2 separate regions of the Homo sapiens genome follow, and region 2 is linked to region 1. Evidence: fine-mapped expression QTL. A gene starts in region 1. The other region holds a variant in brackets. All regions are shown on one strand. Distances are from middle to middle.

Evidence for each region. PIP is the estimated chance that this variant, and not a neighbour inherited with it, causes the effect.
Region 2: its variant is fine-mapped to the expression of MESP2 in whole blood (TOPMed, PIP above 0.99). The same link has a PIP of 0.9 or more in blood mononuclear cells and monocytes.

Annotation. Positions count from the first base shown.
Region 1 is chr15:89,768,433-89,783,778 of GRCh38, reverse strand. MESP2 (mesoderm posterior bHLH transcription factor 2) reads right to left here and starts at 7,447. Exons shown (of 2, transcript NM_001039958.2): 1 at 6,498-7,447; 2 at 5,025-5,714. The coding sequence starts at 7,421. The coding sequence ends at 5,445. LOC124903550 (a long non-coding RNA gene) reads left to right here and starts at 7,170. Exons shown (of 2, transcript XR_007064751.1): 1 at 7,170-7,489; 2 at 8,728-11,685. RefSeq lists enhancers at 1-54, 55-717, 1,782-1,841 and a silencer at 7,024-7,183.
Region 2 is chr15:89,805,596-89,820,941 of GRCh38, reverse strand. ANPEP (alanyl aminopeptidase, membrane) reads left to right here and starts at 6,090. Exons shown (of 21, transcript NM_001150.3): 1 at 6,090-6,170; 2 at 14,136-14,972. The coding sequence starts at 14,359. RefSeq lists cis regulatory regions at 5,707-5,709, 5,727-5,756, 5,755-5,758, 5,666-5,794, 6,046-6,051 and 5 more, promoters at 5,666-6,154, 5,000-6,154, 13,964-14,355, 14,244-14,358, 14,206-14,358 and 2 more and enhancers at 6,022-6,521, 11,475-11,619. The variant T/C (reference allele first, on the strand shown) is at 6,055.

The DNA.
Region 1 (15,346 bases):
CTGGGTTTTATTATCACCCTTGGCCCTCTTCCCCCTTGTGAGAAGCAGGCAGGCCTGGGGCCAGGAAGGCCCCCCATCCCCCACCACCATCTGCACATCAAAGAGTAGGGTGAGCTAAGGGCGGAGGCCAGCCCGGATGATGGTGCTCTGTCCCTCCACCAGCCAGGAGGCTCCCTGGGCCGCCCCAGATTAAGCTCCGCCAGCCACTTTGGGCCAACCCTTCCTGTCGCCAGTACCCAGCGGCCGTGGCTGGCACTTGACCTTCTGGGGACCAGCTGTGGGAGGGGCCGGCCTCACCATCTTGAGTTTCTAATGGGCTCTAGGATCCCTGGACATTGCAGAGGAGAGAGCTGGCCTGCCAGGGAGAAGAGTTTATGCACATTATTTCATTTAGTTCTAAACCGTACCATGAGATAAGGAATATCTTTATGTCAGCTTTACAGATAAGGAAACTGCAGGGCAAGGAGATGAAGTCACAACTCAGTAGAACTGAACTGGAACCACTGTCTGGCTTTACTCCCTGCACAGAAGTGGAAGCCAGTTCTCCATCTGGAGCTGGGGTGGAGTGCGTGACGTCTATACTGCCATGCTTGTGCCGTTACTGGAAAGAGGTCTCGATCCTTGGAGCCCATGCAAGAAAGAATTCAGGGCAAGTCCATAAAATGAAAGCAAGTTATTAAGAAAGGAAAGGAATCAAAGAATGGCTACTACACAGGCAGGGCAGCAGCATGGGCTGCTCAACTGAGTAAACTTAAGAGCTATTTCTTGATTTTTTTTTTCTTTTTTTTTTGAGACGGAGTTTCATTCTTGTTGCCCAGGCTGGAGTGCAATGGTGCGATCTTGGCTCACCACAACCTCCGCCTCCTGGGTTCAAGCGATTCTCCTGCCTCAGCTTCCCAAGTAGCTGGGATTACAGGCATGCACCACCATGCCCGGCTAATTTTGTATTTTTATTAGAGATGGGGTTTCTCGACCCCAGGAGATCCGCCCACCTCAGCCTCTCAAAGTGCTGGGATCATAGGCGTGAGCCACCGCGCCCAGCCTTATTTCTTGATTATATGCTAAACAAGGGGTGGATTATTCATGAGTTTTTTGGGAAAGAAGTGGGGATTTCCCAGAACTGAGGGTTTCTCCCTTTTTTAGACCATACAGGGTAACTTCTGCATATTGCTGTGGCATTTGTGAACGGTCATACGCTGGTGGGAGTGTCTGTTAGCAGCTAAGGTATTATAATCAGCGCATAATGAGCAGTGAGGATGACCAAAGGTCACTTTTGTCACCATCTTGGTTTTGGCGGGTTTTGGCTGGTTTCTTTACTGCATGCTGTTTTATCAGCAAGGTCTTTGTGACCTGTATCTTATGCCGATCTCCTGTCTCATCCTGTGACTAAGAATGCCTAACCTCCTGGGAATGCAGCCCAGCAGGTCTCAGCCTCATTTTGCCTAGCCCCTATTCAAGATGGAATCGCTCTGGTTCAAACACCTCTGACGATGCCACCTGGCAGTGTACAATGCTGGCACTCATCAGGACCTCCATGGCTGATCCTGGAATGCAGTGAGGATACACAGAGCCAGAGGAATGCCTGCAGAGCCTTGGTCAAGGTCAAAGAGCAGGAACCAACTAGAACTCTGGCGGCTGATTCCCTGCCCAGCGCTCTTGCCTGCCCTCAGCACTCAAGTCCAGCAGGAATGGAAGGTGCTGAGGCTCTGTAGGCAGCAGCCTTGGTGGCTCCTCTGACTCAGCCTTTCGAGACTGTGGAGTCAGCATAGCTAACGCAATCTTTCATTTTCTTTTTCCTTTTTTTGTTTTGTTTTTTTTTTTTTTTGGAGACAGAGTCTCACTCTATCGCCTAGGCTTGCAGTGGCACGATCTCGCTCACCGCAACCTCCACCTCCTGGGCTCAAGCGATTTTCCTGCCTCAGCCTCTTGAGTAGCTGGGATTACAGGCGCTCACTACCACGCCAGGCTAATTTTTTGTATTTTTAGTAGAGACGGGGTTTCACCATGCTGGCCGGGCTGGTCTCAAATTCCTGACCTCAAGTGATCACCCCACCTTGGCATCCCAAAGTGCTGGGATTACAGGCGTGAGCCACCATGCCTGGCCTCAGTACTCATTTTATTGAGCACTTACTATGTGCCAAGTATTAAAACCCTGAGAGGTAGGTCTATTATTGTCTCCACTTCACAGTTGAAGAAACTGAGGCTCAGGGAGGTTCCAAAGCTTATCTGTCAGTCTCACTTGGTTACACAGCAAGTAAGAGCCGAGTAGAATGCGCAACCTGGGCCCCAATGCTGTGTGTCTACTCTAACCTTGCCTGGATTTTTCTCATCCTTCCAGCTGTGGCTGACAGCCCCTCGGGACAGCAGGGCCCTAAGGGCAGAACCAGAGCACTTCTGGAAGGTTAGAGGAAGAAGGTACCTCAGCACCACCCAAGATAGTTCCTCCTTTAGGAACTGTGAAAACTGAAGCTCAGAAAGAGTGACTTGCCTGATGCCACAGGGCGTGTCAGAGGCAACGGGCAACCTTGCAGGATGAGAGGGGAAAGCCCCACACGCCAAGAGCTCAAGCCCAGGAAATCAGGCAGCTCATGCTCTGTGCTGCCTCTCCCTTTCTCTCAAGCTGGACTGTTGCAGTGGCCTCCTGCCTGGTTCCATTTCTATGAAGCGGCCGAAGGGACTGAGAGCAGACTTCTTACCAGCTCACCCCCAACTCCCAACCCTCAGTGCTGCCCATCATTCGGGAAACGGAGGCCAAAACCTCATCACCCACCACGTGGAACTCCCCACAAACTTGCCTCCAAGCCCCTTTCCGGCTCTGTTTGCCACTTTTCTCTGTCATCTCTAGACACTAGACGCTTCTGTTTCGACTTGGCTCATGCTGTTGCTCCTGCCTGGACCTCTCTTCCCTCACTCCTCTTGATAAACTCCTGCATATCCTTCAACACCCAGCTCCAAGGTCACCTCTTCTGCACTCTCTCCTCCCTGAGTCAGCAGATACAGAAGGAAGTTACCACCACTGCTGGCTCCCATGCCCACGGGAGCCTTTGCTAATAGATCTTGGCATCCTTTTCCCAAGATCCTGGCAGTGCCTCTTACTCTTAAGACACCGCAATCAAGGCAGCAGGACTAAGGAATCAGGTAACTCAAGAATGAGATGGTACTGCCAACCTCGCCTCCCACCAGGTTACCGCATCCTGGTCCCTAAGCACCTCACACAAACCCCCATCCTTGTGTTTAGGACCTGGGCTCTGATCATTTATTTCCCTGTAATTCACATTAGTTGGGGAATATTTTCTCTCTGGCACCTAACACATGGTGTTATGGGCTGAATTATGTCCCCATAAAATTCCTGTATGGCTGAGCGCAGTGGCTCATGCCTGTAATAGCAGCACTTTGGGAGGCTGAGGCGGCTGAACTGTGTTCCCATAAAATTCCTATGTCTGGCTGGGCGTGGTGGCTCACGCCTGTAATCCCAGCACTTTGGGACGCCTTGGCGGGTGGACCATTGGAGGTTAGGGGTTCAAGACCAGCCTGGCCAACATGGTGAAACCCTGTCTCTACTAAAAGTACAAAAAGTAGCCAGCCATGGTGGCAGGCACCTAGGCCAGCTACTAGGGAAACTGAGGCAGGAGAATCACTTGAGCCTGGGAGGCAGAGGTTGCAGTGAGCTGAGATCATGCCACTGCACTCCAGCCTGGGCGACAGAGTGAGACTCCCTCTCAAAAAAAAAGAAAAAAAAAATTTCCTATGTTTGGCTGGGTGTGGTGGCTCACACCTGTAATCCCAGCACTTTGGGAGGCCGAGGCAGGTGGATCACTTGAGGTCAGGAGTTCGAGACCAGCCTGGCCAACATGGTGAAACCCTGTCTCTACTGAAAATACAAAAATTAGCCGGGCATGGTGGCAGGCATCTGTAATCCCAGCTACTCAGGAGGCTGAGGCAGGAGAATCGCTTGAACCCGGGAGGCAGAGGTTGCAGTGAGCCGAGATTGCACCATTGCACTCCAGCCTGGACGACAGAGCAAGACTCTGTCTCAAAAAAAAAAAAAAAAAAGAAGTTTCTTATGTTTAAGCCCTAACATCCAATACTTCGGAATGTAACTGTGACTGTATTAGAAGAAAGATCCCTAAAAGAGTAAATACAGTTAAATGGGTCCCTTAGGGTAGGTCCTGATCCAACATGACTAGTGCCCTTATAAGAAATCAGGACACAGACAATAGAGACAGATGTGTGACCATGTAGGGGCTCAACGAACAGGCAGTCATCTGCAAGCCACAGAGAGAGGCCCCAGAAGAAACTGAACCTGCCTACACCTTGATCTTGGACTTCTAGCCTCCAGAATTGTGAGAAAATAAATTTCTGTTGTTTAAGCCACCCAGTCTGTGGTTGTTGTTTTTTTAAGTTTTTTGTAGGGACAAGGTCTTGCTATGTTGCCCAGGCTGGTCTCGAATTCCTGGCCTCAAGGGATCCTCCCACCTCAGCCTCTCAAAGTGCTGGGATTACAGGCGTAAGCCACTGCACTCAGCCCGTGGCATTCTAGTATGGCAGCCCTCGCAAACTAATACACTGGGCCTAGCACGTAGGAACCACTCCCAGTATTCTTTGAAGAAAATTTCATGTCATTGTGAAAGAGCCCTAAATGACAGGTCTCTGGGACTGTGGTCTCCCCATTTGGGGCTCCTGTCTGTCTGTCCACAGCTGCATGCACCCACCCCAGCAGTCACCAGGAATGCACCCGAAGAACACAAAAGGGCAGTGGTGATGTGGCTGAGGCAAGTGGGCAGGCCCAAGCTTAGCCCACCTGTGCTACCTTGCACAGCAAGCCAGGTGGAGCTTTTGGCCCTGGAGCTCCAGTGCAATAAATATGGTCAAACTGACAAATGAGGGCCCACCCAAACCTTGGCAGGCCTGGATTAGAGAAGGAAAGAGCAGCAGAACTTGTTCCCCACAGAAGGAAAACATGTTTCCTTTTCCAGAGGCAAGAAAAACCCAGGTTGATGAACAAAAAACAAGGCCAAACCAAATTTTTGTTGTGTGTGTGTGTTTTTTCTTTTTAAGTACAAAAAAATCAAAGCATACAGGGCTCTGGCCAACTGTCACCAAGAAGCAGAGCCTGGGGCCTGCCTCCTACACCCATTCTCCCACCTGTCCCTGCCCAGCTGCCTTTAGGGTAAAGGAGACCCCTTCTTAGAGCAGCTCAGACTGTGCTCTGCAGAGCGCCAGGCATTCTGGGGGTGTCTAGCAGTGGAGGACAGTGCCCCCGCCCTGACTCCATCCAGGGAAGGTACCCGCTATCTATTTCAAACACTGCTTCCCTGAAAGACATCACTTGGAAAAAGGGAGCCTTGGCTAAAGGAGAACATGAAAAGCCACTAATTAACAAATAAGGAGGCACCCAAGCTACAGGACTGATTCCTGGATGGAAAGAGGGAAGCCGAGGCCATTTAGTAGAAGATGCCCAGGCGGGCCCCCTCCAGATCTTCTTGCCAAAGTTCAGGGCAGCCACTGAACCGCAGGCCTGAGCTCTGGGGAGGGCTTGCTTCACTGAGCTGGAAGGCGGCGCCCGGTCCCTGGTCCTCTGAGTTGGGCACCACCTCTGCACTGTGGCTCCAGCACCTCCCGGGGGTCTGAGGCTGCAGTCTCTGGCATGATGGGTGGGGCAGGAGAGATGGAGCTCCCAGCGACAGACAGGGCTCTGGAGACACAGAGAGACCCTGCAAGAGAGATGAGAGCAGCCTGGTTAGTGGGCTACTCCCTGATATCCAGAGATCTTGAATCTGGCTGGTTGCCATGGTATGGCTGGCAGCATCCGGACAGCCCTGGTGCCATGAATGCAGCAAAGCCAAGTGGTTAAGAGGACTGGCTCGGGAGACACTCTGCTAAGGCTTAAATCCCAGTTCTGCTACTCACTAGTAATGAGAACTCAGGTAGCTTCTTTTAGTCTCAGTTTTCTCACCTGTAAAATAGAGATGCTGATAATACCTACTTCCTAGGGTCATTACTGGGGCTGAATAATACATGTAAGGTGCCAAGAATGATGATGGGCACATAGAAAGTGTTCAACAAATTTTGGTTAATATGATTTTTTATGGACGATGAGTCATTCATGAGCCTCATGAATGAACGAATCTTGAAGAAAACTTGAAATCACCAGCTCTAGGCCCATCTACTCAGGAAATGCTGCCCTTACCCTGGGACTTCCTTCCCCCACTGCAGTCTTAATAGCACTTGAAGCCAGCACGCCCACCCTGCTACTTTCCACCCTCTGAGAAAGTCGGCGGGCTCCCCCTCTTTCCCATGGCTGTGAAGACTGCTTGTGGTGACTGTGGAGATGGCCTTAACTTCCCAGGGTCCCATCTCTTCTCCCACGGAGCCGGGGGTTCCTTCCATTCTCCCCTCCGTTAGATAATCCTGGAGTAGATAAGCTGGGATCGAAAAAGTACGAGATTCTCTGCAGACTGGAGGCTGGGGAACACAGCAAGGGCCTCCACACATACCTGGTACACTGCGGCCAGCTCCAAAGTTGCTGGGGCCGCCGTCCAGGGCACTGGTGGGTTCCGGGGCTCTGGGGACGACTGCGTCCAGGGACAGCCTTGGGGTGGCGTCCAAAGAGACGCGTCGGAGGTTGTCCCTTGGGACGAATACGGGGGCGACTGTATCTTGGGGCAGTAAGGGGGTGTTGCCCAGGGATCCGTGTCGTGGACCCCCCTCCCCAGGCGCTCGGGTGCGGCTTGGGCTCCGGGGCAGGCGGACGGGGATCCCCAGGACGCCTCGGCGAGGACGGCGGAGACCAGGCCCGGCCTGCGCCCCTGCCCTTGCCCCTGTCCTTGCCCCTGTCCTTGCCCCTGCCCTTGCCCCTGCCCCTGCCCCTGCCCTTGCCCCTGCCCCTCCGCCTGCGTCTGCGCCTCTGCGGGGCCACGGTCGGGGCACAGCGGGCAGCCCCAAGGGGACCCCGCGTCCCCGCGCTGCCTGCGCCGGCACTGCAGACTCTCCTCGCTGAGACCCAGCACGGCCGATAGGTGGCCGATGTAGCGGATGGCCAGGCGCAGCGTCTCGATCTTGGTCAGGCTCTGGCCGGCCGGCGCCAAGGAGGGAGGCAGAAAGCGGCGCAACTCGTGCAGGGCGCGGGCCAGCGTGCGCATGCGCAGTTTCTCCCGCTCGCTGGCGCTCTGCCGCTGTCCGCCCGCTGGTCCGGTGCGCGCTCGTCTGGGCGTCGTCGCGGCTGCCTCTGCGGCTCGGGAGCTGCAGCTCGGAGGCTGTGGCTGCGGGAGTCCGCGGGCGCCGTCGCAGGGGCACGAACCCGACGAATCGGAGGAGGAGGCCGGGGACGTGGAGTCCCAGTGGCCGGCCCAGCCCCAGCCCTGGGCGAAGATCCAGTGGTCGTGGCCGAGGAGGCTCTGCGGAGGAGGCGACTGGGCCATGGCCGGGCTGCAGGCTCTGGGAGGCTGGGTTGGCCACCTCCAGGCCTGAGCTTTTATGTTGACCAAAGGTGCGAGGTGGCCCCCCGCCAGGTTGCAGAGAGGTGTCAAAACCCACAGAGCCCAGGGAAAGTCTGGGCAGGGGGCCCCTGGGAAAGCGGGCCCATTTGCGGAGGTGTGGATTCTGACTCCTTGGGGGCTCTAAATGGAGGCCCCTGCAGCCCGGGAAGTATGGGAGGGACAATTCGCATCTGGATGGAGCTGCTAAGCTTCTCACCACGCTCCCACCCACGCCCCTGCCCCGTCCACTGCTCACGGTGAGTGCCCGGGAGCCCAACAGAGGCGGGTAGTGCCATGGTCTGTGGGTGCCTCAGGGACCCCGTGAGGAGTGGGTGCCTCTCTCATCACTAACCTCCCGGAGGTCTGTGCCCAGGACGCTGTGCCTACTGTTGTATTAAATAAGGCATCAAGACAAGCCCGGAGGGCCCTGCCCATGGTGGCTGAGGAAGAAGTGCAGGTGGGCCCTTCTGGGGTCCCCAAAATCCACAGTTTCTGATTTGTTGAGTGACACACCAAGAAAGGCATCTCACTGCCCATGGTCTGTATCTACTCTTGAGAAATGGAATAGATTAGGTTGGGGAAGAGGAGTTGGGTACCCTAGGTGATGAAAACCGGCGAAAATGGGTCCCCAAGCCGGCCTCTTTATTGGCTGTGACCTTGGTTAAGTTATTTAGCTCCTCTGAGCCTCAGATTCCCTCATCGGTACCAATAGTGATACAAAATACCTATGCCTAGGATGGTTCCTGGACTAAGTACAGCGATCCCTGTAAAGCACTTAGGCCCTGGCAAGTGAGCTGAAGGTTTGCCATGATCGTTTTATAAAGAAGGTACTGGCCAGGCATGGTGGCTGATGCCTGTAATCCCAGCACTTTGGGAGGCCGAGGTGGATGGATCACCTGAGGTCATAAGTTCGAGACCAGCCTGGCCAACATGCTGAAACCCTGTCTCTACTAAAAATACAAAAACCAGCCGAGTGTGGTGGCAGGCACCTGTAATCCCAGCTACTCGGGAGGCTGAGGCAGGAGAATCGCTTGAACCCGGGAGGCGGAGGTTGCAGTGAGCTGAGATCGTGCCACTGCACTCCAGCCTGGGCGAGTGCGAGACTCCGTCTCAAAAATAAATAAATAAGTAAATAAATAAATAAATAAATAAAATAAAAGGAAAGTACTTAGATTTCAAGGCACTAATGGACTTTATTCATTTAATTCATATTTATTTATTTATTCTCTTTTTTTTGTTTTTGAAACAGACTTGGTCTATCGTCCAGGCTGGAGTGCAGTGGCACCATCTCAGCTCACCGCAACCTCTGCCTCCTGGGTTCAAGTGATTCTTCTGCCTCAGCCTCTCAAGTAGGTGGGACTACAGGTATGCACCATCACGTCTGGCTAATTGTTGTATTTTTAGTAGAGACTGGTTTTTGCCATGTTAGCCAGGCTGGTCTTAAACTCCTGACCTCCAGTGATCCACCCGCCTTGGCCTCCCAAAGTGCTGGGATTATAGGCGTCAGCCACTGCGCCTGGCCGAATTCATATTTAGCAACCAGTAAATGTCGAGCACACAGGGTGAATGAGCTAGTCATGGTCTCTGCTCTAATGAGATTTCAGTCTTGTGGGAAAGAAAAGTGAACAGGCCATTGTATGACAGTAGCTGTATGCCCTTAGGCAGAGCCCTTAACCTGTTTGAGCTTGAGCTTCTGCTCAGTAAAACAGGAATAATGATAGTATCTACATGGGATTGTGTAAGGGATAGTTGAGATAGTAAAATTTATAAAGTAAATGATATTCTCAGCAACAATTACAGTTTAAAGGAGATTGTCAATGTCCTGTGTGGTCTTGGGGAAAGGGCTGAGTCCTGAGGCTAAGAGTCAAAAGAAGACCAGGGACATTAGGGTTCTGGCCACAGAGGTGAAGAAGTCATAGCTGGGCCTTGAACCATGCGTAGGATTTGAGTAGGGAGAGAGGCAGGTGCCGTGCTTTCCGGATGGGAACTGCATAAGCAAAGACCTGGCCTTGGGACCTTCCAAGATGCCTTAGGAGCAGGGCACTGGGGTGGTGATGTGGAAGGCCAGAGCACACCTGGGCTGGGGCCAGGTTAAGGAGTTGGTTTTGGGAGCCATAGGGACTTTTGAGCGGAAGGGTGATACAATTTTAAAAATCATTAGCTAATAACTAACTAAAGATCAACATGACAATGGTGTTCAAGAAGAGATTAACCTGCAGCAGCCTGAAGTAGCAAATGGCTTCGTAATTATTTAATCATTATTATCATTTTTTGTGGAGTTGGGTTTTACCCAGGCTGGTCTTGAACTCCTGGGCTCAAGTGATTTGCCCTCCTCAGCCTCCCAAAGTGCTGGGATTACAGGCATGAGCCACCAGGCCCAGCTGCCTTGTAATATTTTTGTGGCTGATTTTATTTTATTTTATTTTATTTTATTATTTGTTTTATTTTTGAGACAGGGTCTGTCGCCCAGGTTGGAGTGCAGTGACAGCTCACTGCAACCTCCGCCTCCCAGGCTCAAGGAATCCTCCTGCTTCAGCCTCCTGAGTAGCTGGGACCACAGGTGCACGCCACCATGCCTGGCTAATTTTTGTATTTTTAGTAGAGATGGGGTTTCGCCATGTTGGCTAGGCTGGTCTCGAACTCCTGGCCTCAAGTGATCGCCTGCCTCAGCCTCCCAAAATGCTGTTATTACAGGCGTGAGCCACTGTGCCCAGGCTTCATTTATTTTAATTTTAGAGACAGGGTCTCACTCTGTTGCCCAGGCTGGAGTGCAGTGATGCAATCTTGGCTCACTGTACCCTAAAACTGTGTTCAAGTGATCCTCCTGCCTCAGCCTCTCAAGTAGCTGGGACTACAGGCGCATACCACTATGACTGGCTAATCTTTTTTTTTGTTTCTTTCTTTTTTTTTGAGGGAGGGCGTGGCTATTTTCAAAAATTAACTTTTAATTACACAAATTATGTAACTACTACCTTTCACTGTGAGAAATGGAAACATTACAGATAAAGTTGGAGTCTCTTTAACCAACCCCATAAACCCCCAAAAGGTAACAGCTGTTATTAGGCTGTGTGTGTAGTTCCAGACCTGGCCAGTGGGTTAACATAAACGTGTATCCTTAGCAAACACACAGTAACCCTCCAGTTACATTATGTACATTGTTATGTGTAAATGTCAGCTTGTAATTTGTTTTTCTTCTTTTCTTTTTCTTTTTCTTTTTTTTTTTTTTCATTCAACAGCATGTTTCAGAGCATTCCATGTCAGGACATATTTTGCTGACTCACCCTTTAAAAAAATAATGGATCAAATTTTTAGTGGGGATAATCCCAGCACTTTGGAAGGCTGAGGTGAGAGGTTGGCTTGAGCCCAGGAGTTCAAGACCAGCCTGGGCAACATAGTCAGACCCCGCATCTAAGAAAAAAAAAAATTAGCCAGGCATGGTGGGGTGGGCCCTGTAGTCCCAGCTACTTGGGAGGCTGAGGCAGGAGGATCCCCTGAACCCAGGAGTTTGAGGTTGCAGTGAGCTATGATCGTACCACTGTGCTCCAGTCTGGCCACAGAGCAACACCCTGTCTCAAAAAAAAAAAAAAAAAAAAAGTACTGCCTGCGAATACAGATTTAACCAAAACCTTGGTTATAGTTGATCTAAATGTTTTAAATGTTTATCTCTTTAAATAATTTTTTTCTTTAGACAGGGTTTCACTCTGTCACCCAGGCTGGAGTGCAGTGGGGCAGTCACCGCTCACTGCAGCCACCACCTCCCGGGCTCAGGTAATCTTCCCACCTCAGCCTCCGGAGTAGCTGGGACTACAGATGTGCACCATCACTCCGGCTAAAATTTGTACTTTTTGTAGAGACAGAGTTTCACCATGTTGCCTAGGCAGGTCTCATACTGCTGGGCTCAAGCAATCCATTCGCCTCGGCCTCCCAAAGTGCTGGGATTACAGGTATGAGTCACTGTACGCAGCCCATGTAAATAATTTTAACTTTGGAAAAAAGGTAAAATGGCAGAAGGTACGGATACACCTTCAATAATGAAATTATGTCACTTTTTCTCCTCAGAATTTATTTTGAAATATATCGGAGAAAATATGCCCAAGTCACTGCTCTAACGTTATGATGAAGTAACACTTGGTGTTGAATAACTCTGGGCAAACAACTATCGTTTAGTTTATTCTAGCTGCTATGAATAAAGAAGAGAAAATTTTAATTGGTCCATAACATGAAAAGAAGGTGGGATAGATTTCAAACAGGCTTTCTTTGGAGAGAAGCAGTTAGTTATGGAACATTTCATGGCTTAAAAGGGTTTAAACCAAAATTTAAAAAAAACAACAACAAAAAACAACTATTTCCTAAGGGGAAATAAGGGACAACTTGTAAAACATTCACCCCTAGACTTTTTGGGTTGAAATAATGGCACATGTAGTGTAGGTACATCATTTATTGGTCCGAGGCCACACAACACTATAAAGCTCTTGACATACTGTCTATCAGGGAACTTGCATGTATCCATTCAACAGTTATAAACAAAATTCATCAGGCTTCATAGATATGTCTTGATCTAGGTGCTGCATTTCAGATAGAGCAGGTGCTGTTTCTATTGGTGTTTCTTTATTATTTATTTATTTTTTTTGAGATGAAGTTTCGCTCTTGTTGCCCAGGCTGGAGTGCAATGGCATGATCTCAGCGCACTGCAACCTCCGCCTCCTAGGTTCAAGCGATTTCTCCTGCCTCAGCTTCCCAAATACGTGGGATTACAGATGCCTGCCACCACACCTGGCTAATTTTTTGTATTTTTAGTAGAGACAGGGTTTCACCATGTTGGCCAGGCTGGTTTTGAACTCCTGACCTCAGGTGATCCACCTGCCTCGGCCTCCCAAAGTGCTAGGTTTACAGGTGTGAGCCACCACGCCTGGCTTCTATTGATGTTTCTGACTCACACCTTTATTTTTGTTTATTTTTTTATTTTTTGAGACACTCTCTCTGTTTTGTCCAGGCTGGAGTACAGTGGTGTGATCTCAGCTCACTATAACCTCCGCCTCCCAGGTTCAAGCGATTCTTGTGCCTCAGCCTTCCAAGTAGCTGGGACTACAGGCATGTGCCACCGTGCCCGGCTAATTTTTGTATTTTTAGTAGAGACAGGGTTTCACCATGTTGGCCAGGCTGGACTCGAACTCCTGACCTCATGCAATCTGCCTGCCTTGGCCTCCCAAAGTGCTGGGATTACAGGCATGACTCATGCCTTTTAACTGCTATATGGTAGTCCATGGCATGCACAGCCACTTACTGATGCACCTTTATTGTATTTTTAGTTTTTGCCCAGCAGTGCTGCTTTGTGCATAAACAGCTAGGAATACAGTGGTGGATGGTCTTGTGATCTCCAGGAAGCTTCTGAATATCCAGAATTATTTCCCCCCAACCTCCTTAGAGCCAGCCTGAGGGATTTCTTGTGGAGGGATTTGGTATATAATGGGATTCCACCACAGGCACAGAGCCCTGCACATGGTACATACATCCTTTCCTCTCGGAGATTGCCTGGTCTCCTTCTACCTTGGTTTGAGCTAGCCTGGAGCCTAGACCCTAGGCTGACTGTGGGTTTTACAGTGTAAGTTCTGGAAGGTGGGGCCCTGGGCCTGGTTTGTTGTGGCCCCTGGCTCTTCCCTGTACTCCTCAGCTAGGCTCTGGAAGCACAAGGGCACTCTATCTGCTAGCCTCACTCACCAGGAGGGAACCCCAAGTGGATCCCCCAACTGGGCCTCCACTTAGCACAGGGAGGCAGTGCAGCTTAGTGGTCAGGTGTCTGGGCTGCAGAGTGAGACAGGCCTGGTTTCTTACCAGCTGGGAGAACTTGGGCAACTTACTCAATCTCAGTTTTCCCGTCTATAAGTGGGTATTCTGATCTCCAGGATAACTGAAGTAAAATAAGATAATGCATGTGATAACGTTTAGAACAGGGCTGATGTTATGCTTACAGCAAGTTCAGGAACAGCAGAAAGAAGTGATTAAAGGAATAGGTTGGACTGTGAGTAAGGGGAATGATATCTTCAGCCTTGGTCCCAGAAGGAAGTGATTCCTTGCTTTCTGGGAACTGCTCCCACACCAAACCAGGGCATCCTGCCCTCCCCACCTCTCCATATCCAGCCTTTCTCTTCTGTTGGGCCCTGGCAGGGATGCCTGTCCAACTTGCCTACAGCCCTGGGGCCCTTAAGGGGTCCACTTCTGGATGGGTGTGGGGCCACGTATTTACTCTGTGCTGGAACCTGCCCTAGGTGCCGAGCAAACAAGCCAGGTTTGGATCCTACCCTGCAGCCCCTTTTCAGTGTTTCCACCCTTCATTTGGTTCCCCTGTTAAAAAGAGGGCCTGTGGCTGTGTGCCATTGGGTAAGGTGATTACATTCTGGGCTTCAGTGTGCTAGTAGCACCAGGTTCACATCTTCCTTTCTGTGATAGGAATGGTGGCTAGATCAGGGAAACGTGATCAGAAGAATGTATTTGGGTTTCACAAGTGTGGCAGACACTGCTAGTTGCCCACACAGCCTTTATTTGCCTTTTTCTTTTAGTAATCTTGTGTTGTGCATGGTGATACACCCTGCTAAAAAAAAAAAAAAAAAAAAAAAGAAAGAAAAGAAAAAGAAAAATCACCATCTTGTTTAGGTCAGTGTCATTTTAGGAGGTACTATGAGCAACGAAACACAATTCCTACCCACATAATAGGGAAGTTCCCAGAGTTTCCTTATCACCAATGGGGCCATGTGAGCTGGATGACGGTTCAGTTAAGTGAATTCACAACAGATTCAGGGCTCCCACAAATGAATGAGCGGATGTTCACTGGGAGGAAGGTCTCTAGTGAGGGGCCACAGGCACTGTTCCCAGCCTTTTCCTGGGCAGTATTATGATCTTGAATGAAGATATGAACTGATCTAATGTGGGGTAAGACCCAAACCCAAAAGTGACTTGGGAAACAGCCAGTATCTAAATAAATCCTGACAGGCTGGAACAACCCATCAGACCTGATCAAATAGAACGAGCAGGTCCCCTGTACCCTTCTCCAAGTTCACGTCAGGAGGCATCCTGTAAAATCAGCACATGTGGGAGGGCATGGTGGTCATTGCCTTCAAAGTATGAGGGGCATAAAAGTAAATGTGATCCAAGCTGCATGCAAATTCACAAGAAGCAGGCCAGGCGCAGTGGCTCACGCCTGTGATCCCAGCACTTTGGGAGGCCGAGGCAGGTGGATCACTTGAGGCCAGGAGTTTGAGACCAGCCTGGCCAACATGGCGAAACCCCATCTCTATTAAAAATACAAAAAAGCTAGCCAGGCACGATGATGCGCACCTGTAGTCCCAGCTACTCGGGAGGCTGAGGCAGGATAATCCCTTGGACCCAGGAGGCAGAGGTTGCAGTGAGCTGAGATCGCGCCACTGCTCTCCAGCCTGGGCAGCTGAGCAAGACTGTCTCAAAAAAAAAAAAAAAAAAAAATCACAAGAAGCAGGGGTGGGGACGGGGGTGGGGGGGTCTTCAACTGAGGGGGGGTCTTCAACTGAGGAGTGATGGTGATGGTTCCTTATTCTCCAGACAGGATGGGCCCTACCTGAAGTAAGTGGTGAGAACTGGAGGCCACTGTTCATGAGGGATGGGGACAAATCCCAGCTTAGGGAGGCTGGTGAGAGGGCTTGAAGCCAGGTCACCAGTGAAATAGCTGGAGGACCTGGGAGCATTGAGTACAAAAAGAAAAAAGTGGAGGGGATGTGACGGTTGTCTGCAGAGGCACGGACCCAGGGGAACGCTCCAGAGAGAGTCTGAAGAACTTTCTAAGTCAGAGGCTCTGTCTTGTAGGGGAGGGAGTGGCCTGTTCCTGGAGCTAATCAAGA
Region 2 (15,346 bases), 37 kb before region 1:
CCACACCCTGGCCGACTCTAGATGTTATCCGTTGGTCTAGACCTTGGCCAACATCATAAGTGAAAACTGACATCTCATTGTTTTGAAATTGTGTTTCCTGAGTATGACTAAGGTTAAACATCTTTTCACCTGTTAGTTGGCTTTTAAAATTTCCTCCTCTGTGAAGTTTCAGATCTAATCCTTTGCCCGGTTTTCAGTTGTGTTGTTTTTATTTTATTTTATTTTCCCAAGTCCTATTCTGCCCTAATGTTTGTTTGTTTGTTTATTTATTTATTTTGAGACGGAGTCTCACTCTGTTGCCCAGGCTGGAATGCAGTGGCATGATCTCGGCTCACTGTAAGCGCCGCCTCCTGGGTTCACGCCATTCTCCTGTCTCAGCCTCCGAAGTAGCTGGGAGTAACAGGCTACCACCACCACGCCCGGCTAATTTTTTGTATTATTATTATTTTTTTTTTAGTAGAGACGGGGTTTCACCATGTTAGCCAGGATGGTGTTGATCACCTGACCTCGTGATCCTCCCGCCTCAGCCTCCCAAAGTGCTGGGATTACAGGCGTGAGCCACTGCGCCTGGCCTGTTTTTATGTCTTTTACAAACACCTTGTAGGACCTTTTTAGGACATTATTGATATTAATCTGTTGTTGTTTATATGTGTTGCAAATATTATTGTCCAGTGTAATATTTGGCTTTTGCCATACAGAAGTTTGTATATATTTAAGTTTTCCTTTTGTTATGGAAATTTGAAAACACACTAAAAAATAACAGTAATAATGAACCCTCAATATACCCATCTCTGAGAGTCAACAGTTAGCAACATATAGCTAATTTTCCCCTGTTATGGAGGGTTCTTTTTGACTTTGCTTGTGGTGGTTGTGCAATGCAGAGATTTTTACCTTTATGTAGTCAACTGTAGCGGTCTTTTCATTTGTGGAGTATGGATTTCATATACCTAAAAAGGTCTTCCCACTCCACGATTATTAGCAAAACAAAACAGAAAGTACTCTTTCAATACTTCTAAAATATGATTTATTATTATTATTATTATTATTATTATTTTGAGACAGAGTTTCGCTCTTGTTGCCCAGGCTGTAGTGCAGTGGCGCGATCTCGGCTCACCGCAGCCTCTGCCTCCTGGGTTCTAGTGATTCTCCTGCCTCAGCCACCTGAGTAGCTGGGATTACAGGCATGCGCCACCATGCCCGGGTATTTTTGTATTTTTAGTAGAGATGGGGTTTCTCCATGTTGGTCAGGCTGGTCTCGAACTCCCGACCTGAGGTGATCCACCTGCCTCGGCCTCCCAAAGTGCTGGGATTACAGACGTGAGCCACCGCGTCCAGCTATGATTTATTGTTTTTAGAATGGTAGCATAGTACTTTTTTCATATAGAAGCCCATAATTTATTTAACCAATCCTCCATTACTGAACATCTAATTGTTTCTGATTTTCCCCTATTTTAAATCATGCTGTATTGAGCATTCCTGACTTCTCCACCCCTTCTGGATTAGGTCAAAGCAAACCTGAGACATCAAATCATTTCATCCACAAATATAAGTTTATAATTTTTATTTATTTTTTTTTTGAGAAAGAGTTCTGCTCTTGTCGCCCAGGCTAGAGTGCAATGGTGCGATCTCAGCTCACTGTAATCTCTGTCTCCTAGGATCAAGTGATTCTCCTGCCTCAGCCTCCTGAGTGGCTGGGATAACCGGTGCCTGCCACCATGCCCGGCTAATTTTTGTATTTTTAGTAGAGACAGATTTTCACCGTGTTGGCCGGGACTCCTGACCTCAGGTGATCCACCTGACTCAGCCTCCCAAAGTGCTGGGATTGTAGGCATGAGCCACTGCGCCCAGCCAAGTTAAAAAAAGTTTTTAAAATAGAGATGGGGTCTTGCTATGTTGCCTTGGCCTCAATCGATGCCCCTGCCTCGGCCTCCCAAAGTGCTGGGATTACAGATGTGAGCCACCTCACCTGGCATTCAAATTTTTATATTATAGCCAGGCGCAGTGGCTCACGCCTGTAATCCCAACATTTTGGGAGGCCAAGGCAAGTGGATCACCTGAGGTTGGGAGTTTGAGACCAGCCTGACCAACATGGAGAAACCCTGTCTCTACTAAAAATACAAAATTAGGTGGGTGTGGTAGCACACGCCTGTAATTCCAGCTACTCGGAAGGCTGAGGGAGGAGAATCGCTTGAACCCAGGAGGCGGAGGTTGCAGTGAGCCAAGATTGCGCCATTGCACTCCAGCCTGGGCAACAAGAGCAAAATTCCATCTCAAAAAAAAAATTATATTATAAAGCCTGTTAATCTTCTGGTCTTTCGTCTTCACTTTTAATTTTATTTATATTTTGATTAGACACGGTATTCACATGGTTCAAGATTCAAGAGAACAAAAGGATATGCTGAAAAATGCGTTTCCCACCCTGTTCTCCAGCTCCAGTTTCCTTCCTGGGAAACAACTCGTGTTATCAGCGCGTGCACATATAAAAGCAAATTGTGTGTCTCTGTGCTTTTTCCATTTAAGTACAATTGATAAACGACTTGAACACGGCTCTGCGTCTAGGTTTTATTACTAAACAACCTGTCCTGGGGAGCGTTCTGTAAGGAGAATCCTAGTTATTTTTGATAGCCATATGCATTCCATTGCAGGGCATACAATAATCATTCATTTATCCCATCTCTATTGGTGGACATTTAGGTTGTCTCCAGCTATTAGATTGGTGCAAAAGTCATTGTGGTTTTGGCTCAATGTTGCAGCGATGCAGTGGAAAGCCTTGTGTATTCCTTTCACTTACGTGTGAGCATTATCTGTAGGATAAATTTCTGGAAGTGCCAAGTCAAACAGGACATGTGTTTATATGTTTGATAAATACTGCCCAAATATTCTCTTTTGAGGTCGAGTCAGTCTACACACCAACCAGCAATGCAGGGGGTTGCCTGTTTTCCTCCCACCCTTGCGAATAGTGTGTTACCAAACTTTTTTTTTTTTTTTTGAGACAGGGACTCACTCTATCGCTCTGGCTGGAGTGCAGTGACACGATCATGGCTCACTGCAGCCTTGACTTTTCAGGCTCAAGCAATCCTCCCACCTCATTCTTCCAAGTAGCTGGGACTACAGGCACGTGCCACCACGCCTGGCTAATTTTTTTTTTTTGGTAGAGACAGGGTTTTGCCACGTGGCCCAGGCTGGTCTCGAACACCTGGTTTTAAGTGATTCTCCTGCCTCAGCCTCCCAAAGTGCTGGAATTACAGACATGAGCCACTGTGCCTGACCTACCAAACTGCTTTTTATCTTTGCTGATCTGGTAAGTGAAGAATAGTATCTTTTGTAGTTATAATTTTCATTTTCTTAATAAGTGAGTTATTGAACATCTTTTTACATGTTTATGAGCCCATGAATTTTCTTTCTGCAGGAGCAAGCACTGTCTCTTCATCTTTTTTTTCACAGGGGGTGGACAGAGTCTCTCTCTGTTACCCAGGCTGGAGTGTAGTGGCGCAATCTCGGCTCACTGCAACCTCCACCTCCCGGGTTCAAGCGATTCTCCTGCCTCAACCTCCCCAGTAGCTGGGATTACAGGCACCCACCACCATGCCCACCCAATTTTTGTATTTTTAGTAGAGACAGGGTTTCACTGCATTGGCCAGGCTGGTCTCGAACTCCTGACCTCGTAATCTGCCTGCCTTGGCCTCCCAAAGTGCTGGGATTACAAGCATGAGCCACCACGCCCAGCCCACTTAGGCTATTTCTGATTTTCCAGTATTATAAGTAATACTGCAGTGAAAAGCCTTGCATATAAATATTCTATTTCCTTAGGCTAAATTTATTTATTTTTTTGAGACAGTCTTGCTCTGTAGTCGAGGCTGGAGTGCAGTCATGTGATCTCAGCTCACTGAAGCCTCTGCCTCCCAGGTTCAAGCGATTCTCGTGCCTCAGCCTCCCAAGTAGGTGGGACCACAGGCATGCGCCACCACACCTGGCTGATTTTTGTGTTTTAGTACAGACACAGTTTCACCAGGTTGCCCAGGCTGGCCTTGAATTCCCGACCTCAAGTGATCCACCTGCCTTACAGGCATGAGCCACCACGCCCAGCCTCTTCAGGCTAAATTTCTGAAAGTGATCTTCATTCCTAACCCCAAACTGCCCTCCAGAAAGCTGGGTTGCACTTCTGCCACAGCAGGATCTTTACTCCTCTTAAAATCTCCGCGGAGCCTGGGTGGGAGAGGCAGAGCTCCGGGGGGAAGATTCTCTCCTGGCCTGATGTAGTGTTTTCCTTGGCTTGTCAGACATGGAGGAGATTATGCCAGATATGATAGTGGAGAGAGTCAGACATGCATGAGACTGGAGAGAGAAAAAAAACAAAATAGCCTCTGAGGTCTCACTCACAGCCTACTTACTCTTACTTTACACACAATTCTATATTCCGATATGTTTGTGACCTGGTTTTTAAGAGTACAGAGCAAATTAGGAAGGAGAAGCAAGGCTGCTACCTAGAGGTACCCTGGTCCTCCATGAAGTTTCCAAAAGAAGAGCAAGTGCAAGTAAAATAATAAAACACAGCCAGTCACAAAGCCATCAATTTGGACCATGCAGTGCAAGGCTTTAACTGTCCCAAGGATTCCAATCATGGATAAGGAAGAGCTTAAATTTGATTATAAATCTGAAAGTCTGGAAGTCAGCTTGAATATTGTGGTAGACATAATCATATCCTCCTCCTCAAAAGATGCCCTGGTTCTAATGCCCAGAATCTGTGAATATGTTATGCTACCCCACGAAGGGAAATTACAGTTGCAGGTGGAATTCAAGTTGCCAATCCATTGATTTAAAATAGAAAGATTACCCTGGATTATCTGGGTAGGCCCGATGTAATCACAAAGATGCTCACCAGTGGAAGCAAGAGGCAGAACAGTTGGTGTCAGAGTGACAGATTGTGAGAGACTGGTGGGCCACTGCTGGCTTTGAAGATGGATGGGGCCACCAGCCAAGGAATGTGGGCAGCTTCTAGAAGCCAGAAAAGCCAAAGAAACAGGTTCCCTTCCAGCCTCAAGAAAGCTGTATCCCTCAACCCCCTTGCTTTTAGTCCAGCGAGACCCATTTTGGACTTCTGATTTTACAAAACTTGTAAGATAGTAAATTAGTGTTGTTTTATGTTTGTGTTACGGCAGCCACAGGGAACCAATACAAATATTATCTGGTACCGCCCATTAAAGCTGCTCAGAGACAGGGAGCCCCACCCTGGCGGGGCTCCGGTGGCTGCACAACCTCTGCAAGCAGGATCAAGATGAGAGGCGCAGGCCAGGTGTGGTGGCTCACTCCTGTAATCTCAGCACTTTGGGAGGCCAAGGCGGGCGGATCACTTGAGGTCAGGAGTTCGAGACGAGCCTTACATGGTGAAACCCTGTCTCTACTAAAACTCCAAAAATTAACCAGGCGTGGTGGCGTGCACCTGTAGTCCCAGCTACTCGGGAGGCTGAGGCAGGAGAATCGCTTGAACCCAGGAGGAGGAAGTTGCAGTGAGCGGAGAAAGTGCCACTGCACTCCAGCGTGAGCGACAGAGCGAGACTCTGTCTCAAAAACAAATAAAGGAAAAAGAAAAAAATGAGAAGCGCGTGTTCCCGACTCCGGTGCTTTTTCGCAAGGTCGTGCTACTGCGCCTTCTGAACTACGAGTCCCAGGTACCAAGAAAGTTGAATTGCGTGCTGTGGCGGGTCCGTTATCTGCACCACCCGTCTGCACGGGATGCGCTGGCTTCCTGCCCCGGATGCACAAGGCTCCCTGCGGGACACTCAGGGCGAGGCTCTGAGCCCCTCCCCCGCGGCAGATGCCGTCCAGATGTGGCCGGCGGGTCCCGCGGGCTGCGGCGACAGGGACCCCGTCGGGGGCAGCAGGAGCCCTGGTGCATCCCAGGCCCCGGGGGGAAGGCCGGGCCGTCGGAGGAGCGGAGGAGCCCTGGGGGGCTCCCGGGAAGCCGCGGGCGGACGGGGGAGGAGCCCGGGCGGAGCTGCGGGCGGGCGGCCCGCTAGGGGTGAATCGGGTGGAGTAGTGGTCGGGTCCGGTTAC[T/C]TCCCTTTAAAAAGACGGGAAAGGAGGAGTCCAGTGCTGGAGGGGCAGGGACGGCGGCGGCGCAGCTCGGAACCCGCCAGGGTCCAGGGTCCAGGTTCCAGCGCCCGGCGGCCCAGGCAAGTGGGGCGGGAGGGCGGGGGCTGCGGGCGCGGGTAGGGGTCGTGGGGCAGTTGGGTGCGCGGGAACCGAGGGAGCTGCAGACCCAGCGCTTGGCGCGTGCGGAGCTGGACTTCTGCGGCCGCGACGCCCCTCTTCCCAGATGGGTAAACTGAGGGCCAGGGAAAGCGAAGAATTCTTTTGGCCGAGCTCCCACTACGATCTCGCGGTCAAGTGGGTCCCCAGCGGGCCTCGCAGGGGTCGGAGGGGCTCCCATCTGGGGAGGGGGCCCCAGGGTGGGCGAGGGCGACGGGAGCCTGGGGAGGACGGACGGGGAGGGCGGCGGAGCGGAGCTAAGCTGCGGCGGGTGGACCCGGCTCGGCCGCGGCCACTCTGTCCCTGGTGGGTGGGGCGCGGCCGAAGGCAAAGGGCGAACCCGGCCCGCCTGTGGGGTCTCTGGCCAACACTGGGCTCAGAGGCCCTTTCTTTAACCTTAGATCTCGCTCCTCGGTCTAAAGCCTCCGCCGCAGCTCTCAGTGAAGAGGAAGGGGAACTCTAGGTGCTCAACGCCCGCGTTACAGTCGCGTTCTCCCTCGCTCCTACAACCCGGCCAAGATGCCGGGGCATGGATGGGGACCGAGGTTTGGGGGTTGTGGAGCCTATTCCACGCCCTCCCTGGTGAGCAACTGAGACAGATCCAGGGCCCCATTGCAATCCACTCTTGGTCTGGGAAAAGGTCCCCTAAACAGGGCCAATGGGATCCTTTCCCCAAATGACTCCAGAACGCACCCCCCCCCCCCAGCAGTGCGGTGGGCAGGGACGGCCCAGGTGGGCTATGTCCTGGGGTTTTGTGACTGGATCCCCACTCCTCCCCCACCTCAGCCCCTGGACTGCAACCCACCAGGCCGTGTTCGGGGGTGGTCAGAGCCCTGGTCTCAGCCAGACCTGAGGTCTGATGTGGCTTCATCCCTGAGTCTCTAAACGCCCTGGCCTTACTGGGCCTCAGTTAATTCACCTGTGAAAGGGGAGGCTTGGACCAGAGGGCCCCTCAGGGTATGTGTTTTGTGGAGGGGAGGTGGGCGTGTGGGGTAGGGGTGACCAGGAGGAAGTGGGGACAGCCTCTGTCCCACAGGAAGGCTGGCTAGCCCCAGTGGGTATGGGGGAGCTGGGCAGGGAAGAGGGTGGACTCCCCTCTCCCTGTGGGAGGGTGTGCTGGGCCCATGAGGCCCTCATCCACTCTCAGCCACCTTCCTGTGGAGCCCTAGCCTCGAAGGCCACACTATGAGTGCAAGGAGGCCACCCACAGCGCTGCTCCCGCTTCACAGGTGGGGAAACCGGCCCAGTGTCTTGAGGCAGCCCAGCCGCCTGCCCTGTGCTTCCCCCAGAGCCTTCTGGGGAATGAGACCTTCGTTACACGCTGGCGCTCCTTACACCCCTACAGCCTTTAAGCTAAGGCCTCCAGCCCCATCGCTGTAAGAATTGTATGCTAGGCATTCTGAGGACATAGATGGGGGTCCCCATGTCGGAAGGAGCCAAGGTGTTGGAACTGGGTCCAGTTCCTGGGCTGGCTCTGGTGGGAGATCTGGAACCCTATGCTGGGGCTCCTGGACAGCCCTGGAGGCATGGCATGGACAGTGTGTCAGCCGCACACCGAGGCCCTGGGGTGTCCTTATTCACATAGGCTGGCAGCCATCTATCCCTAGCCCGGGCTTCACCCCGGGTGCCTGTCACTCCTGGCCCTACAGTGGTCCCAGTCACACCTTGGAGGCAAGATGTGGGTCCTCCACAGGCCTGTGTCTGGAAGCAGCCCCCAGCACTCCCTGGCTAACAAGTTCTACTTCTGAGAACTACCCCCAGCTCCCAGCCCTGGTCTGGCCAAATGGGTGCGTGTCTTCTCCTGTGGTCTTCAACTCCCCTTGGCACGGCCACAGTAGATGTGAGGGGCTGTATGGGAGGACATTTTTAGGAGGCATATGTAGTTAAGCTGTGGAACCTGCTGCTAACTAGCTGTGTGGCCTTGGGCAAATCACTTAACCTTTCTGTGCCTCAGTGTCCTCATTTGCCAAATGGGGGTGATTATCCTGGTAGGGCACATAGTAGGTGCTCAGTTTCACCTACCATGTGTCTCACCAGGATAATCACCCCCCATTTGGCAGACAGGAGTTGCCAGGCAGGATCTGTGGCCCCACACAAACCCTATGTGTACTTCCCCCACCCACAAATGCCTCTGCTCCTTCCTCCTGTGTGCCCTGCATTGGGCTGAAGAGGCTGATGAGAGGCAACTTCCCATTGGGGCCTTCTGAGGTTCTTGCAGGAGGGGCAATGTCCAAGGCTCCCAGAGGAAGCACCCTGGGGTGATGCAGCTATGGGCGGAGGCCTCAGAAGCCTGGGAGAAAGCCAGGGGCCTGCGGGGACAGAGTGTGCCCTGGCCCAGGCCCAGCCTCGTCCCTACCCTTCTCGCTCACTGCTCCCTCAGAGCAGACAATGAGCCCCAGGTTGTCCCTGAGCTCCCAGTCTCATAGTTCACAGTCAGGGACACTGAGTGGGAGTGGGTGGGGCCTACCCAAGGACCCAGTGGTCGGGGATGGAGCATGGATAACACAGCAGCTCACCCGGCCACGGGTGCTCAGCTCTCCCGGCCACAGCCCCTCCCAGGCTCCTGGAGTCTTCATATTAGAGTAGAAAGCCTCTTGCACTTCACATCTGAGACCAAGGAGCCTCTCCCCACCCACAAGTGTGGGTGTCTTCCACACTGTGACTGTGACTTAGTTATGCCCTGGCATGATCGTTGTCAACCTTCATGTTTTTTGGTTTTGGCTTTGGTTTTAGTTTAGAAGAACTTACGTTTTCTGGACTAAAACATAGGCAGGGAAGAAATACATAAACCCATAGAAAGGCTGCTTTAGTTGAAGTGGGTTGAGAGCTCGGCTTCTACCCCGTCAAGAAATTCACAGCGAAAGGAACACATGCATTTTGCTCACTGGCAGAAAGAGCCTGCACCAAAGACAACCCGCAGGGCCAGCAACCCCAACATCATACAGGGTGGAGCAGCAGTTCCCAAAGCGGGTGCAACTGGACAGGATCCTTTTAGGAGCTACCTAGAGGAACAATTTTTTCTTTTTTTCTTTTTTTTTTTTTTTTTACTTGAGATGGAGTCTCACTCTGTCGCCCAGGCTGGAGTGCAGTGGCACGATTTCGGCCCACTGCAACCTCCGCCTCCCGGGTTCATGCCATTCTCCTGCCTCAGCCTCCCGAGTAGTTGGGATTACAGGCGCCCACCACCACGCCCGGCTAATTTTTTGTATTTTTAGTAGAGATGAGGTTTCACCGTGTTAGCCAGGATGGTCTCGATCTGCTGACCTCGTGATCCGTCCGCCTCAGCCTCCCGAAGTGCAGGGATTACAAGCATGAGCCAACACGCCCGGCCCAGGAACAATTTTTAAACCAATAGTCATGAATTGTTAATATAAATTAACACATCCAACCATGATTTTATCGCTCAGAAGGAGGCTAAGAAAGTGAATTGATTTAAAGAAAAATACGAAGTAAATAATCACAAAGGTGGATCACGAAGGTGGTTTGTGCACAGCCCAGAAGCCCAGGAAGGAATGTCGGGTAGAGAGGGTGGAACCTGTCCCGAGGATCAAGGCTCTGAAGTTCCATCCTTAACTGCTGTCTCTCATTCTTGCACTGATGCCCCATTCCACAAGCACGTGTTGCCCTCCCACTGCACGCCAGGTGTAGAGGATACGGCACACCTGGTGCTACCCTCATGGAGGCACTTGGAGGGCTGCCTGGGGGCAGCACCACTGACTTGTGTCTCCAGGGCAAGTGGGGAGTGGATGAAGCAAAGGCAGGAAGCTTTCCAGGCCCAAGGATCAGCTTGTGTGTAGGGAGGAAGGGAGAATGAAGCGGGGAAAAGCAGGTTGGATTTGAACTGAAAGAGGCCACTGGGGTGGAGCACAGAAGTGACAGGGGAGAGCGTTTGAGATGAGGCCAGAGAATCACTGGGGGCTGGATCACACAGGCCCTGTAGGTCACGGCAAGGACTGTGGGTGTTGTCATTCATTTGGCCAACATGTATTGGGCTCCTGCCTTGTGCTGGGCATGGAGGGGCATACGATGCCACCAGGCCTTCCTTTGAGGTGCTTGGGTGCAGCAGCAGGCTTTTGAACACACTGGTAGCATTTTTCTTTTTCTTTTTTTTTTTTCTTTTTTGAAACAGAGTCTCGTTCTGTTGTCGTCCAGACTGGAGTGTAGTGGCACGATCTCCGCCCACTGCAACCTCCACCTCTTGGGTTCGAGCGATTCTTCCGCCTCAGCCCCCCAAGTAGCTGGGACTACAGGCGTGCGCCACCACGTCCAGCTAATTTTGTATTTTTATTTATTTATTTATTTATTTATTTATTTTTTGAGACAGAGTCTTACACCGTCCCCCAGGCTGGAGTACAGTGGCACAATCTCGGCTCACTGCAACCTCTGCCTCCCGAGTTCAAGCGATTCTCCTGCCTCAGCCTCCTGAGTAGCTGGGATTACGGGCACCTGCTACCATGCCCAGCTAATTTTTTGTATTTTTATTAGAGACGAGGTTTCACCATGTTGGCCAGGCTGGTCTCCAACTCCTGACCTCGTGATCTGCCCACCTCAGCCTCCTAAAGTGCTGGGATTACAGGCATGAGCCACCGCGCTCAGCCTCAGTGGCATTTTCCTAAGTGCTGTGATAGAGGTGGGAACTGGAGACTGGGGAAGCGCAGAGGGGAGTGGGGGCTGGTGTGCATGATAAGGCAGTGACATTGAGTTGGGTTTTGAAGGATGAGTAGGAGTTTGACAAGAGGGAGAGGAAAGGCATTCCTGGCAGTGGGAACAGAATGAGCAAAGTCACAGAGGTATGAAAAAGCCCCGATGATCTGGGGAGACGCTGGCAGCTGGAGCCACAGTGGGCAGTAGAAAGAGGACAGGCCAGAGGGTCAAGTTCACAGAAGGTATTAAGGCCCAAGCCAGAGTTAAGGTTTCACTCTGCAGGTTGGGCACCAGGTTTGAATGGGAGAGTCCCACCCACACTCTTAGGCAGAGCCCTCTGCTGACGTGTGCTGGTGGGGTTGGGTGACAGGGGAGGGTAGCATAGCCGCCACTGCCCGATGGGGTGTGGAGGTGGCCAGGCCTGGGCTGTGGCAGGGGACTGGACGAGGGAAGCCCTTTTGTGTGTTCCTGAAGGTGGGGGCTGCAGAGCATGGCTGTCTCTGTGCCCCCAGCCTGGGTTGGCCTGGTGCCTAGAGCAGGGACCTCTCATTATAGAGCCAACTTTGGGCTACCTGCTGCACCAACTTGGAAGACCAGAGGCCTTGTCCAGAAGAGTAAAGATTCCAGCCAGCTGGGCCTATGGTCTGAATCCAAAGCAAACAGGAAGAGAGTATGGTGGGCCAGGCAGGGCCTCTTTCTTTGTTTAGAAAAGGGATTAGTCCAGGCCGACTTGTGGGTCTTTCTGCTGCAAAGGTGGGAGGGGGCTGCAGGCTCCGTCAGGGACATATCAAAAGGCTTTTCAGGGGCAGGCATGGTGCCCCAGTGCCAGCCTGGGGGGTGCTGTAAAGATGGGCTCCCTTGGCGAATTCCATCCACCCTGATGGGAGGAGCCTGGCAGCATGTGCTGGGAGCCACTGCTCCTTCTCTCACCACGCCCAAGCTGGAGCCCTTCCTGACACCTGATTTCGCACGATTGCCCCTTGGGGTCATCACCCAAGCCTAATGGGGTGTCTGCTAGTCACTGCAGTGGGAGGTCCATCCTGGTCCCAGACCAAGGCCCCTTGGGGAAATGCCAAAGGCTCAGAACACCCTCAGTCTCAAAGGTGGGCACCCAGGACTCCCCTAAAGACCCTGGGCTCAGACTCGGCCTCCATACACCAGACGAGAGGCGGCAGGTATTTGTGTTTTGCTTATGCCTGATTGAACTAATCCACGTGTCCCTTCAGTTCACACATTGCATTTATTTAAGAAGCCTTCCTGCAAGCTCAGGGGTGGCAGGGGTGGCAGGGGTGGCAGACGAGTGAGGCCCTCAGGGAGCAGAGCTGAGGGAGCAGGAAGGCATGTGGGGCCCTGACATGCTGGGGCCTGGCACGAGTCCGGCCTGCCTGCCATGCTTGGAGAAGGGCTCAGAAGAGGCAGGCACTTCTTCTGGGGGCAGGTGTGGGGTGGGGACAAGCTGGGAGACAGAGGCCAGAAAGACTTTGGTAAGGAGTTTCTCCTGGACTGACTCATTCATTCATTTACTCAATCCTTCGTGCATGTGCGCATCCACTCAACATCTCAGTAATGAGGACCTACTGTGTGCCAGGCACTGTGCTAAGTGCTGGTGAGGCCCTGCTGTCATGGGGCCTGCAGTCCAGGACTCAAGTTATCACCACACAGATCAAAGGGAAAACCACGCTGAGTTCTGGGGCTTTGCAGAACAGGTCTGTGGAGCTAATGGAGCTCATAGGAGCTTGACTTGGTCAGGGAGGTCAGGGCGGCTTCGCTGCGGAAGACTTGTAGGATGGAAAGGAATTAACCAAGGCAATAGGGAAGAGAAGATCCAGGCAGAGGGAACAGGTTGTGCCAAGGCCCTGGGGCTTGATGAAGGCCAGAGTGGCTGGGGTACTGCAACAGGGGGGAAGAGGCCAGGAAATGGGCAGGCTGACTGTACCCGGGCTTGTGGGTGCCTTTAGAAGGTCTGGTCTGGACTCTACAAGCAAAAGGAAGGTTTTTTTTAGCAGTGGCATAAAATGATCCAATTTGTGTTGAGCAGGTTCAAGCAGGCCCGAATGGAGGCAGGGAGTCCATAGGGGCGCTGCTGTGTCCACATAAATGATGAGAATGGTTTTGACCAAGTGCATCTTGCGATGGGGGAATGTGGGTGAATTGGATGTGGAGTGAGGTCAGGCGGTGTCGAGGTCTGAGAAACTGGGCTGGTGGATGGGGAAAGTGACAATGAACATAATTTTCCTGTAAGGTGTGTATTTTATTTTGTATGGTAAGTAATATCTTCATTTCTACCAAGGATAGAAAGAGGCAATTGTTGAGCTTTGGGTAAGAAAGAAGGGAACGATTTTTTTCTTTTTTCTTTTGAGTCTCACTCTGTCACCCAGGCTGGAGTGCAGTGGTGCGATCTCAGCTCACTGCAATCTCTGCCTCCCGGATTCAAGCAATTCTCTGCCTCAGCCTCCCAAGTAGCTGGGATTACAGACGCCCGCCACCACGCCCAACTAATTTTTTTTGTATTTTTAGTAGAGACGGGGTTTCGCCATGTTGGCCAGGCTGGTCTTGAACTCCTAACCTCGTGATCCACCCACCTCGGCCTTCCAAAGTGCTAGGATTACAGGCGTGAGCCACCACGCCCAGCCGGGAATGATTTTTAATCATTCTACTATTTGGTGTTTAATATGTTTTCTCACTAAATCTGTTCAACAAACCTGAGAGGCAAATACTGTTATTTATTTATGAGGAGAGAGGTTCAGAAGGGTAAAGTTACCTGCTCAAGGTCACAGCTGGAAAGAGGTGAAGCCTTCAGCAAAAAAAGCAAAACAACTCATTTCATTTTATTCCGTGAGCTGATAATGGAGGAAAAAGTATTTGGCAAGAAGCGGCAGGGAGGGGAACCTGGAGGAACTCCCTGCTCTTGAAGAATGCAAGGGAGGCTGGGACCTTGTCACTGAGGAGCCCCTGGCATCCTTCCAGAGATGCAACCAAAGGGGTGACCCCAGTGTGTTCTTAATAGGAGCCGGGAACCCCTTCTCTGTGCACCTCCCACCTCTTGCCCCTGGGAAGTCCTTCCCTGACTCTAACCTCAGTTCTGATGCTGTTCCCACCCTCTCAGCTCTCAAGCAGATCAATGCAATGCCACCTGGCCGCTTGCTTTGCCCACTGGGCCTACAGCCGGAAGCCTGCCCTTCAGCCCTCGGGCCTGATCCCAGGCCGCCTGCAGCCTGTAACCAGACACTGTTTGCTTCCAGCAGGCACCCCCCGAGCCCAGCTCCACACACCGTTCCTGGATCTCCTCTCCCCAGGCGGAGCGTGCCCCTGCCCAGTCCAGTGACCTTCGCCTGTTGGAGCCCTGGTTAATTTTTGCCCAGTCTGCCTGTTGTGGGGCTCCTCCCCTTTGGGGATATAAGCCCGGCCTGGGGCTGCTCCGTTCTCTGCCTGGCCTGAGGCTCCCTGAGCCGCCTCCCCACCATCACCATGGCCAAGGGCTTCTATATTTCCAAGTCCCTGGGCATCCTGGGGATCCTCCTGGGCGTGGCAGCCGTGTGCACAATCATCGCACTGTCAGTGGTGTACTCCCAGGAGAAGAACAAGAACGCCAACAGCTCCCCCGTGGCCTCCACCACCCCGTCCGCCTCAGCCACCACCAACCCCGCCTCGGCCACCACCTTGGACCAAAGTAAAGCGTGGAATCGTTACCGCCTCCCCAACACGCTGAAACCCGATTCCTACCGGGTGACGCTGAGACCGTACCTCACCCCCAATGACAGGGGCCTGTACGTTTTTAAGGGCTCCAGCACCGTCCGTTTCACCTGCAAGGAGGCCACTGACGTCATCATCATCCACAGCAAGAAGCTCAACTACACCCTCAGCCAGGGGCACAGGGTGGTCCTGCGTGGTGTGGGAGGCTCCCAGCCCCCCGACATTGACAAGACTGAGCTGGTGGAGCCCACCGAGTACCTGGTGGTGCACCTCAAGGGCTCCCTGGTGAAGGACAGCCAGTATGAGATGGACAGCGAGTTCGAGGGGGAGTTGGCAGATGACCTGGCGGGCTTCTACCGCAGCGAGTACATGGAGGGCAATGTCAGAAAGTGAGTTCCGGCTGGGCTGCCCGGTGGGGTGGATCCGAGGTGCTGAGGCAAGGCTGGATTCTGAGGGCCAAGGAAGGACTTAGCTTGCAGGCCTTTGAACCCTGTGGAGCCCGAGACTGGCCCATTGCTTCACCTCCAGCTGCTGGCAAAGCAGCTGCAAATGCACCGAACTGGGAGGGCTTCCCCACCCCTCACCAGGGAGCTGGGGATGAGGGACAGAGCGTCCCTTGGACAGACAGGAAAACCGAGGCTCAGAGGAGAGAAACTCACCCGAGGTCCCTGAGAGCCTGCTGGCACCCCGAATCCAGAAGGAGCCCCAACCCCCACGAGTCAGCTGGCCTGGCAGGGCTCCGGAGGCTCCCGGCGAGGCGGGG